Homo sapiens: one gene and its partners. The protein of the gene in region 2 interacts with the protein of the main gene of each other region in a pairwise test. Each region holds a gene or a part of one and is shown on either strand. Other genes may lie near its edges.

What was found.
Region 1: the proteins of ZSCAN1 (region 2) and RFC1 interact in a two-hybrid assay, tested with the Homo sapiens proteins (one large-scale study listed by BioGRID and IntAct).
Region 3: the proteins of ZSCAN1 (region 2) and CNOT6L interact in a two-hybrid assay, tested with the Homo sapiens proteins (one large-scale study listed by BioGRID and IntAct).

Annotation. Positions count from the first base shown.
Region 1 is NC_000004.12:39,300,296-39,303,950, reverse strand, and holds part of RFC1 (replication factor C subunit 1), read left to right. Parts: intron 1-799; coding exon 800-891; intron 892-1,076; coding exon 1,077-1,214; intron 1,215-1,355; coding exon 1,356-1,451; intron 1,452-1,574; coding exon 1,575-1,673; intron 1,674-3,536; coding exon 3,537-3,655. UniProt on the Homo sapiens protein: Subunit of the replication factor C (RFC) complex which acts during elongation of primed DNA templates by DNA polymerases delta and epsilon, and is necessary for ATP-dependent loading of proliferating cell nuclear antigen (PCNA) onto primed DNA.
Region 2 is NC_000019.10:58,040,467-58,044,121, reverse strand, and holds part of ZSCAN1 (zinc finger and SCAN domain-containing protein 1), read right to left. Parts: coding exon 3,578-3,655; intron 1-3,577. UniProt on the Homo sapiens protein: May be involved in transcriptional regulation.
Region 3 is NC_000004.12:77,712,847-77,715,742, reverse strand, and holds the end of CNOT6L (CCR4-NOT transcription complex subunit 6-like), read left to right. Parts: 3' UTR 1-2,356; downstream 2,357-2,896. UniProt on the Homo sapiens protein: Has 3'-5' poly(A) exoribonuclease activity for synthetic poly(A) RNA substrate.

The DNA of each region.
Region 1 (3,655 bases), on a different chromosome or scaffold from region 2:
CCATATAGATAAGGATAGTCATTTAGTATGACATAATAGAAAAAAGCTTGGAAGCATCCTATATATTTCATTAATGGTGATTAAGTAAAGTGTGTGATACAAGTGTAGAATGGAGTATTAAATTGCCTTAAAAAATGAAGTGTTCTGTATCTGTAAGATAAAGAATGAATCACCAAAATACATAAAATGACAAAACTGGCTGGGCATGTTGGCTCACGCCTGTAATCCCAGCACTTTGGGAGGCTGAGGCGGACAGATCACCTGAGGTCAGGAGTTTGAGACCAGCCTGGTCAACATGGTGAAACACCGTCTCTACTAAAAATACAAAAATTAGCTGGGTGTGGTGGCGTGCGCCTGTAATCTCAGCTACTTGGGAGGCTGAGGCAAAAGAATTGCTTGAACCCGGGAGGCGGAGGTTGCAGTGAGCCAATATCGTGCCATTGCACTCCAGCTTGGGCAACGAGTGAAACTCTGTCTCAAAAAAAAAAAAATTCAAAACTCAGTTGTATATTTTTATGCACATATGTGTACAATATCTCTTAAAGGACATATAAGAGACTGTTGTTTGCCTCTGGGAAGGGAATTGGGGTCTGCAGGGGAAGGGGTGGCAGGGAGAGTTTCTCTTCTCTGCATATTCTTTTTTTTTTTTTTTCTTTAACAACACTCTGTAGTCCAGTGCTGCATATTCTTGTAGCTTTTGAAGTTTAATATCTGTTACATAATTTTCTACAGAGCAGCAGTTTTTGAGCAATTGTTATTTTGTTTTTGTCTCATCCCATTGCTCCTCAACCTGGGTCAGATGGAGCAGCCTCTTCAGTAAGCACGAAACATGCTCTCATCATGGATGAAGTAGATGGCATGGCAGGCAATGAGGATAGGGGAGGAATTCAGGTAATTCAAGTGCTGTATTTTTGCAGTTTCACTGTTGATAATTTAGATTGTTAGAACATTGTCATTCTCTCATACTTAGGGCAGTTAAGGCATGTTGCTGAGGAGATTTTTAGAACCTAAAATAGCTTGTGTGGTATTTGTCATTTTTAAAATAATTATTTTTGTGTTGCAAACTTGCCTTTCAGGAATTAATTGGCCTGATAAAACATACTAAAATTCCCATTATTTGTATGTGCAATGATAGAAATCATCCCAAGATTCGCTCTCTGGTTCATTATTGTTTTGATCTTCGTTTTCAAAGACCTCGGGTTGAACAGATTAAGGTATGATGATTGAAATTTTTTTTCCATCACACTAGCCTATTTATTTAAGGGTCAATTTTTAAAAGTACCTGATAAATATTTTTAAAATACCTGATTATATGAGTTAAAAATCATTGAGGACTCCTCCCTTGTCAATTTCAGGGTGCTATGATGTCTATTGCATTTAAAGAAGGTTTAAAGATTCCCCCTCCAGCTATGAATGAAATAATTTTGGGAGCCAATCAAGATATCAGACAGGTAAATTAAATATATATCATGTAACAGTTGTTGATTATTTTTAACTAATGCTTTCAACCTTGTAGGGATGGGGAGCAACAGGATTTTCCTATCTTGACGTTGTCTTATTTGTGATTCTTTTAGGTTTTACATAATCTGAGTATGTGGTGTGCACGAAGTAAAGCATTAACCTATGACCAGGCCAAAGCTGATTCTCACAGAGCCAAAAAGGATATCAAAATGGTAAAATAAATGTCCATGTCTTAGTTACTTTCCTAAGCCAAAACACTTCTTGTTCTGTAGGTAGCTTGATAGAAGTAGTTATTATAGTTCCTTGGTATGCCTGTGGAATCCAGGGATATATAGTAGGAAGTATAGACAGCTGCTGAAAGTGTTTCTAATTCAAATGATTTTTTTCTCAAAGATTGTCAATGTCAATTATAAATTTTGAGAAAGGGATAAATTTTAAATTATACTTATGCTTCAACAATTATAAAATGGCTTTTCCAGAGTTCTTTATGTTTGGCTTTCGTGTTTGGAATGGTTTTGCACTGTTCAGAATAATCCATGTCAAATGGTTTAGTTTAATGACCTCTCTGAAACTAGAGGTATGTATCAGTTTCCTCTGTGTTGTATTTTACCTAGTTGCTAATCAGAATTTATAGTTAGAGCAATGATTAAGCAGGTTCTAAAAAAGTTAATACACTTTCTTATTTATTTAAATTTTCAAAATTTTTGGTAGAGACAGGGTCTCGCTATGTTTCCCCGACTGGTCTTGAATTCCTGGCCTCAAGTGATCCTCCTGCTGTGGCCCCCAAGGTGCCGGGATTATAGGTGTGAGCCACCACGTCTGGCCTATACGCTTTATTTTTTAGAGCAGTTGAGGCTCAGGAGTTTGAGACCAGCCTGGCCAACATGGTGATCCATGCCTGGCCTATGGATTAAAAATGGAGTGGAAGGTACAGAGAGTTCTCACATACTTCATGTCCCCCTCACACGCACAGCCTCTCCCACTGCCAACATCCCCCACCACAGTGGTATATCTGTTACAATCGATGAACCTACAGTGATACCTCATTATCACCCAGAGTCCGTAGTTGACATTAGCATTCCCTCTTGGTGTTGTACGTTGTGTGGTTTTGACAAATGACATGTATTCACCATTGTAGTATCATACAGAATAGTTTCACTGTCCTGAACATCCTCTGTGCTCTACCTGTTCATTCTTCCTTTCCGCTTTCCTCCCTACAACCCCTGGCAGCCACTGATCCTTTCACTGTGTCCATAGTTTTGCCTTTTCCAGAATGTGGTATAGTTGGAATCATGTAGTATGTGGACTTTTCCAGTTGGCTTTTTTCACGTAGTAATGGCATATAAGGTTCTTCCATAACTTTTTTGTTTTTGTTTTTGTTTTTTTTGGTTTTTTTTTTTTCGGAGTCTTGCTTTGTCACCCAGGCTGGAGTACAGTGGTGTGATCTTGGCACACTGTAGCCTCTGCCTCCCGGGTTCATGTGATTCTCTTGCCTCAGGCTTCTGAGTAGCTCGGGTTACAGGCACCTGCCACCACACCTGGCCAATTTTTTATTTTTAGTAGAGACGAGGTTTTACTATGTTGGCCAGGCTGGTCTCGAACTCCTGACCTCAAGTGATCCGCCCACCTCAGCCTCCCAAAGTGCTCGGATTACAGGGGTGAGCCACCATGCCCTGCCCCCCCATGTCTTTTCATGGCTTGATAGCTCACTTCTTTTTAATGTTGAATAATATTACATTGTGTGAATGTACCACAGTTAAATTGTTTATTTACCTACTAAAAGGACATCTTGGTTGCTTACAACTTTTGGTAATTATAAATAAAACTGCTTGTAAACATCCTGTGCAGATTTTTGTGTGAACATAGTTTCATTTGGGTGAATACCAAGAAGCGTGGTTGCTGGATCGCGTGGTAAGAGTATGTTTAATTTTGTAAGAAACTACCAAACGGTACAGTTTTGCATTCCCACCAGCAATGAATGGAATTCCTCTTGTTCCATATCCTCGTTAGCATTTGGTGATGTTACCGTTTTGAATTTTGGCCATTCTAATAGGTGTGTCCCTCTCTTTTTTCAGGGCCCATTTGATGTTGCCCGGAAAGTGTTTGCAGCTGGAGAGGAGACTGCTCACATGTCACTTGTGGACAAGTCAGATCTCTTTTTTCATGATTATTCAATAGCACCCCTCTTCGTCCA
Region 2 (3,655 bases):
TTTTTGTATTTTTAGTAGAGACGAGGTTCCACCATGTTGGCCACGCTGGTCTCGAAGGCCTGACCTCTAGTGATCCGCCCGCCGCGGCCTCCCAAAGTGCTGGGATTACAGGCGTGAGCCACCGCGCCCGGCCCCAAGAGTCAGAAAGTTTTTTACGCCAGGCACAGTGGCTCACGCCTGTAATTCCAGCACTTTGGGTGGCTGAGGAGGGAGGATCGCTTGAGCCTAGGAGTTTGAGACCAGCCTGGGCAACATAGTGAAACCCCATCTACACAAAAACTAAAAAAATTTTAAAACATATAAAAATTAGCCGGTGCGGTAATGTGTGCCTGTGTTCCCAGCTACTCAGAAGACTCAGGTAGGAAGATCGCATGAGCCCAGAAGGTTGAGGTTGCGGTGAGCCATGATCGTGCCACTGCACTCCAGCCTGGGTGACAGAGTGAGAGTCAGTCTAAGAAAGAAAAAAAAAATGTAAAGCAAAAACTTACAGTAAGATAAATTATATTGAAGAAGGAAATATAGTTGCCAATTTAGTAGCCTAAGTGCACCATGTTTATGAAGTCCACAGCACAATAACCTCCCAGGCCTTCACATTCACTCACCACTCAGACTCACCCAGAGCAACTTCCAGTCTCACAAGCTCCCTTCCTGGCAAGTGCTTTATACAAGTGTACTGTTTTTTATCTTCTATTTTGTATTTTTACTGTACCTTTTCTATGTTTAAATCCACAAACAACATTGTGTTACCGTTGCCCACAGTATTCAGTGCAGCCCCGTGCTGTGCAGGTCTGTAGCCTAGGAGCCATGGGCTGTGCGTGTAGGTGTGTGAGTGCCCTCTGCGATGTATGCACGGTGACGAAACCGCCTAAGGAAGCATTTCTCAAAAGGCTTCCGATGGTAGGCGGTTGTATGCGCTCAGCGATCGCCAGTCGTGCCCACTCCACAGCGCCTCCTGGCGAGCCGGGCTGCCCCGCGCAGAGCAGCTCCACCTGTCCCTCACCTACGCTCCCGCTAATCCCCGGCGACTTCAAAAGCAGAGGTGCCTCAGGCAGTGTTAGCACCCTGGCAGCGGCAATGCCTGGGGCCGCGCTCACCAGCGCCCCGATCCCGGAGCTGCCGTCTCTCCACGCGGGCGCCAGGCCTCAGGCCTAAGGCCTCTCCCTCCACAAGTGCAGCTCGCTCAGGGACGTTGGGGCACCCTGCTGTGGCTGAGCCCCACAGCCTAAACCAGCGCCAACGAGGATCCTCTCAGCCACAGCGGCCCTGGTGGGAGAGGGGTGGGAGGACCTCAGCAGCCTTCCCCACCTACGACCCCCGCAAAAAGAGAGTCCTTGGAGTTGCCGTGTGGTGAGGGGATGGCCTGTGAGCGCGGCTGTGGTTTCCACGTGGCGTCTGGGATGGGAGAGGGAGTCAGATAAGCACATCTGCCGGCAGCGGCTGAGGAAGCCCGTGGCCAACAACTGTGGTCTACCCAGGTTAGATGCCTCCGTTAGATGCAGAAACAGAAACCACGGCCCACGAAACTTTGTTTTGGTGCAGGAGAGGGGCTCTCATGATGATCTTTAAATCTATTTTAGGGCCGGGCGCGATGGCTCACGCACTTCAGGAGGCCGAGGCGGGTGGATCACGAGGTCAGGAGATCGAGACCATCCTGGTGAACACGGTGAAACCCCGTCTCTACTAAAAATACAAAAAAAATTAGCCGGGGAGGTGGCGGGCGCCTGTAGTCCCAGCTACTCCGGAGGCTGAGGCAGGAGAATGGCGTGAACCCGGGAGGCAGAGCTTGCAGTGAGCCGAGATCGCGCCACTGCACTCCAGCCTGGGCTACAGAGCAAGACTCCATTAAAAAAAAAAAAAAGTAAAGTAGAAGTTCCTCTTCAAAGACTTTCCTCCCCATCTAATTAGGAATAAATAGTAACTTCTCTTAGAAGCAAAATTTATTCAAAGACCTGTGCTAACATTCTTATATATCTGCTAGCCATAATAAAAAAAATCAATGTACTTTATGTTCTTAGCTCCCACAATTTAGCCTAAATATTTGCCCTGGTGTGCCTATACTGGTCCAAGCAAGCATTAGGTCATAGCCTGTTCCTCTTCCTTATTTGAAGGTGTTTTTACCTTTCTCAGCATTCCACAAGTTACTTCCTTCTTCCTTGAACTCCTGAACTTGTGATCCGCCTGCCTCAGCCTCCCAAAGTGCTGGGATTACATGCGTGAGCCACTGTGCCCGGCTGTTGATGTTTTTTGAGTTAGGGTCTCACTCTGTCATCCAGGCTGGAGTGTAGAAACATGATCATAGCTTACTACAGCCTTGAACTCCTGGGCTCAAGTGATCCTCCTACCTCAGCCTCCAGAGTTGCTAAGACTACAGGTGCACACCCCTACACCTGGCTCATTTTTTTTTAAGACATGGGGTCTTGCCATGTTGCCCAGGCTGCTCTTGAACTCCTGGGACCAAGTGGTCCTCCCACCTCAGCCTCCCGTGAGGCCTCACTCAAAGTGCTGGGATTACCGGGATGAGCCACCACACCCAGCCGTATTTTGTTACAGCACCCAGAACGGACTAAGCCAGTGGGAGACACACATGTGCAGTCTTTCAGCCTGTTACTTGGCTGCCTGAGAGTGGGTCCTGGGCCTAGAACATCTCCTTACCAAGAGATAAGGGGTCCCCCCAGTTTGTGCTGGGTGTAGTGCCTCGTGTGGAGGTCTCTGTTTCCCAATGTGTGCCCCTTTGTTCTGCTCAGGCGTGTGCTTCACGTGGCACCTAGACAGCCCCACTGTTAGGTCAGGACCCCTCTAGGAGGGACCTGCTGGCCCCGGCCTGACAGCCACATGGGCAGATGGTGCTCTGGCCCGGTCTCTGGTCTGTGAGCAAAACCTTGCTCCATTCATTGTTCGACCGTGCTGTGTTTCCCTTGGCGGCTCCAATACCAAGATCCAGAGGCAGAAAGTGGTCAAACTCAGTAGCCCTGATCATACGAACACATGCTACTCACTTAGCAGTTCTTACTTTTGTTCTTTTGTGATTTACCCATTACCCCTGGATTTCTCTCATGTGTCTGCGTGTCCCCACCCCTGATTTTAATCTCTCCAGCCACACAGAGATCCGCTTGGCTCCCAACCGAGCCGGGCCCCTCCCGTCGCCTTGAGGCCTGCGCAACAGCAGGTCTAGCTGCAGGGGAGCCCTCAGCATTTCCTTCTGGGCCCGCCCAGAATCCTGGGTTCACTGAGGGAAGATGATCGGGGCAGCAGGACTTTCTCAACACACGCAGCATCTGGTGCGGGTGACACAGGAGGATGGGTCTTAACTGCGAGGCTGGGAAAGGACAGGAGGGGCTGGGGTGAGGCCCAGAGGCACACAGCAAACACACAGCTGCACTGACTGCCCTCGCCCAGCACTGAGCCCCAGGAAGCTTGGGGAATCTGTGGGGCAGGCGGGGAGTTTGGAGGCCGGGCTTCCTGGGAGCGCTGGGGACAACCTCACACAGTCCTTGGATGGGGCATCCTTGAGGCCGTCCCAGAAGCGGCACGCATGCCCTGGGGTGCAGGAGCACGGAGCTGGGGGCCCCGGGCTCACCTGCGATGGTTCTTTCTGGGACCTTGGACTCTTCCCATCTTCCTCCTCACCGAAACTCCAGTCCTGGGGTTCGACCGA
Region 3 (2,896 bases), on a different chromosome or scaffold from region 2:
TAAACTACAGGATGTCTTGAACAAGATTCACAGAAAGAAAGAAAAAAAAGCAGTTCTTTCCAGGAAGGTGGTAAGGAAGAGCATGCATATTTCTTGTTTTAACCAAATACCTTTTTTATGTAAATGTCTCTATTAAACCCCAGGTCCTACACCAGGAAATAGGGTGATAACCAGGAAAATACCAAGCTTTAACCCAGTTGGCAGTTCCTTGTGGCATACATTTGGTTAGACTTGGGTTTTTCCTGGAACCAAAGGAAAATAAGCATGTTGAGTTCTTCGTTCAACAGACATGACATTGAAGTAATAGAATATTTTTTAAGTAAAATAGTTTTCACTTTCAAAGCCTATGACATAAGGACATTTGTGCTTATTAATTGTTAATTTTTTTTTATGGTACATTGTATAAACTGAGTAGCATTGAACTGCATTTTAGAAGTATGTCATCAGAAACAAATCACATTATGGAAAGGATATACAAATGCCAAGTGATATGACTCTTTTGGCATGGTGGTAGCATGGTCCATTCAGCTTTCAGAATCTTTCGGAGGCTCTAGTTTGGTGCCTAGTACTAGTTATTTTTGTTAGAACAATCTCTCAAAATTTAGATAATTTTCCAGTTGTATGTCTGTCACTTTTAACTCTAAAGCGTAAGAATCATGGTAACCCTCTCAGAAGTGGTCCTTTCTTGCTCATTTCAGTTTCGTATTAACTTCAAATCACTGATGTATTGTCTTTCAAGCTATCAATTGTTATATGTACCAATTTAATTTAGTTTGTAGTTATCTGAAGTCACAAAATTGGTTCAGCATTGATGTCAAACAATGGCTTTGCTTCTTACCAAACAGACTTAGTATCCTGCTGCTTGTTTCAATCTTGATGCAGTAAGTGATGCAGTATCTGGGTCTGTATTTACTTAGAAACTGTACTGTCCTTTCTCTGTGCTTAACTTGCTAAAAATATATTCCCTTACCTGTGAAATTCCTGAGCGGTGCTCTGCCAACTTTTCAAGGGGAGGGATTTGGATGGCTGTGTTACTGCACACTGGATCTGGAATTGTTCAGGGTTATGAGTGACAAATTTCTTAAACACCAGCAGCACTGAGATGTGCACTATGGGCATTCGTACAGTTGTTGTCCAAATGCAAACAACTTTTTCATCTTGGAGAAGCTGAGATACAGAGTTCAATAGAACTACTTGGAATATTTTGAGAAGGTTGAATGTTTCATCTTTGGCTTTGTTGTCTCTGGAGTGGGGAAGTATGGAGGGCTTTTTTTTTTTTTTTTTTTTTTTTTTTTTTTTTTTTTAAAGAGAGTGTGTATGTACTTTTTCTCTCTATAAGGGCCAGGGTGTTGGTCAAATTCACCATCGATTAATTTATATCTTCTGTTGTGATTTTTTTCAACTATATAACAAGTGCCAACTAATTGTCCATGGGACAATCTACTTTTCCACTCAATTTATCGTTTTGAGTAGGGAAAGGTTCATTTATTTTCATTACCTGGCATTAAGTTAAAGAATTCATTATTTTGCATACATTTGAGTCATTCTGTGACCTATAAAGTGTTTTTGTAACTATCTAATTCTAATGGTTGCAAAGCAAAGCACATGACTGTAAAACCAAGCAAGGTGTTTTAGTAACTTTTTCCCTGAATACTTGGTAGTTTCCATTGATACTATTCCAAAACAAATTCTGCTGTTTTAGGTTGTATATTTACTTTGCTTTTGTTCTAAGAAAAAGCCAAGGACTAAATCAACTTGTTTTTGTGTTTCAGTAATCAGTTTAAAATCTAAGATTTTTTTTTAAATTAGACTATTTAATGAAGTGCCATGTAATTGTAGCTTGCTAGTGTTTAATGTTTAATAGACTGGTTCTGTAGGTGTTTTAACCATTTAACACTCTCTGCCATCCCTGGAGAAAGTGGTTCTACTCTTACTGAACACATTCTCTCTGACAAAATCACCAGCTGCTTTATTTTTCTATTTATTACAGTTAAACAGTTGATGAGGTCTGAATCTTGACCAAAACTGCTCAGCTGAGATGTTTTTCACAATAGACACTGTACAAAGTGTGCGTGCAAAAGGACACGGTTGGTAGTATTTTTTCATTAATGTGAACATTGACTAAAAAAAAGCAGTCCTGCCTTTTAAATCTTGTGGCAGCTCAGAAGGGAGGTGCTTAAGAACCTTAACTACTATGTCAGATAACAAAATATTTTTTTCCATTTTGGAGATTGGTTACTGCTCACACATGATGTATAGGGCTAAATATATGCTTGTTTCCTTGCACCTGTGTACTTCCCCTCTCTCCCTCCCTTTCCTTCCCCTGTAGGCAATAAATGGCCATTTTGCAACTGCATACCTTTGTCTTGGTTTTTGACTCTTTATTTGTGCAGTATAAACCTCTGCTTTTAGGTTGATACGTCTCTTCTAAAGTGAAGTAGGGAGCCAAGATAATTCAGGGCAAAATACATAATTACAAATTCATGCTACATTTTTTTTTCTGGTGAAAACTACATTACTAAGTACATTGTTTAAAAAAAATTCTGAAGCTAGTTATATGACTTGCTTTGCCCGAAGAAACCAGTGCAAAGGGATATATGTCACTTCTGAGTGGAACTTTAAGGGCCAGTCTTTAATTTGCCATATTTCCTTTTCTTGCCTGTGTGATCATAGAAGTATATGTTGAGATGAAACCTCTCATTCCAGATCCTTAAGTGACTTTGTTGAAGAGAACTCCCCTGCTGTCCTTTGGGCATGTAGCGTAATAAACAACTGCTAAATCTCAGTGTGTTAATACAATAAAGTTGTGTTATTAGGGCTTAATTTAGTTGATCCTGACTGACAGACAACCACCAGACAGATTTGCTGAGTTATCAATATTGAAGAAACTCAACAG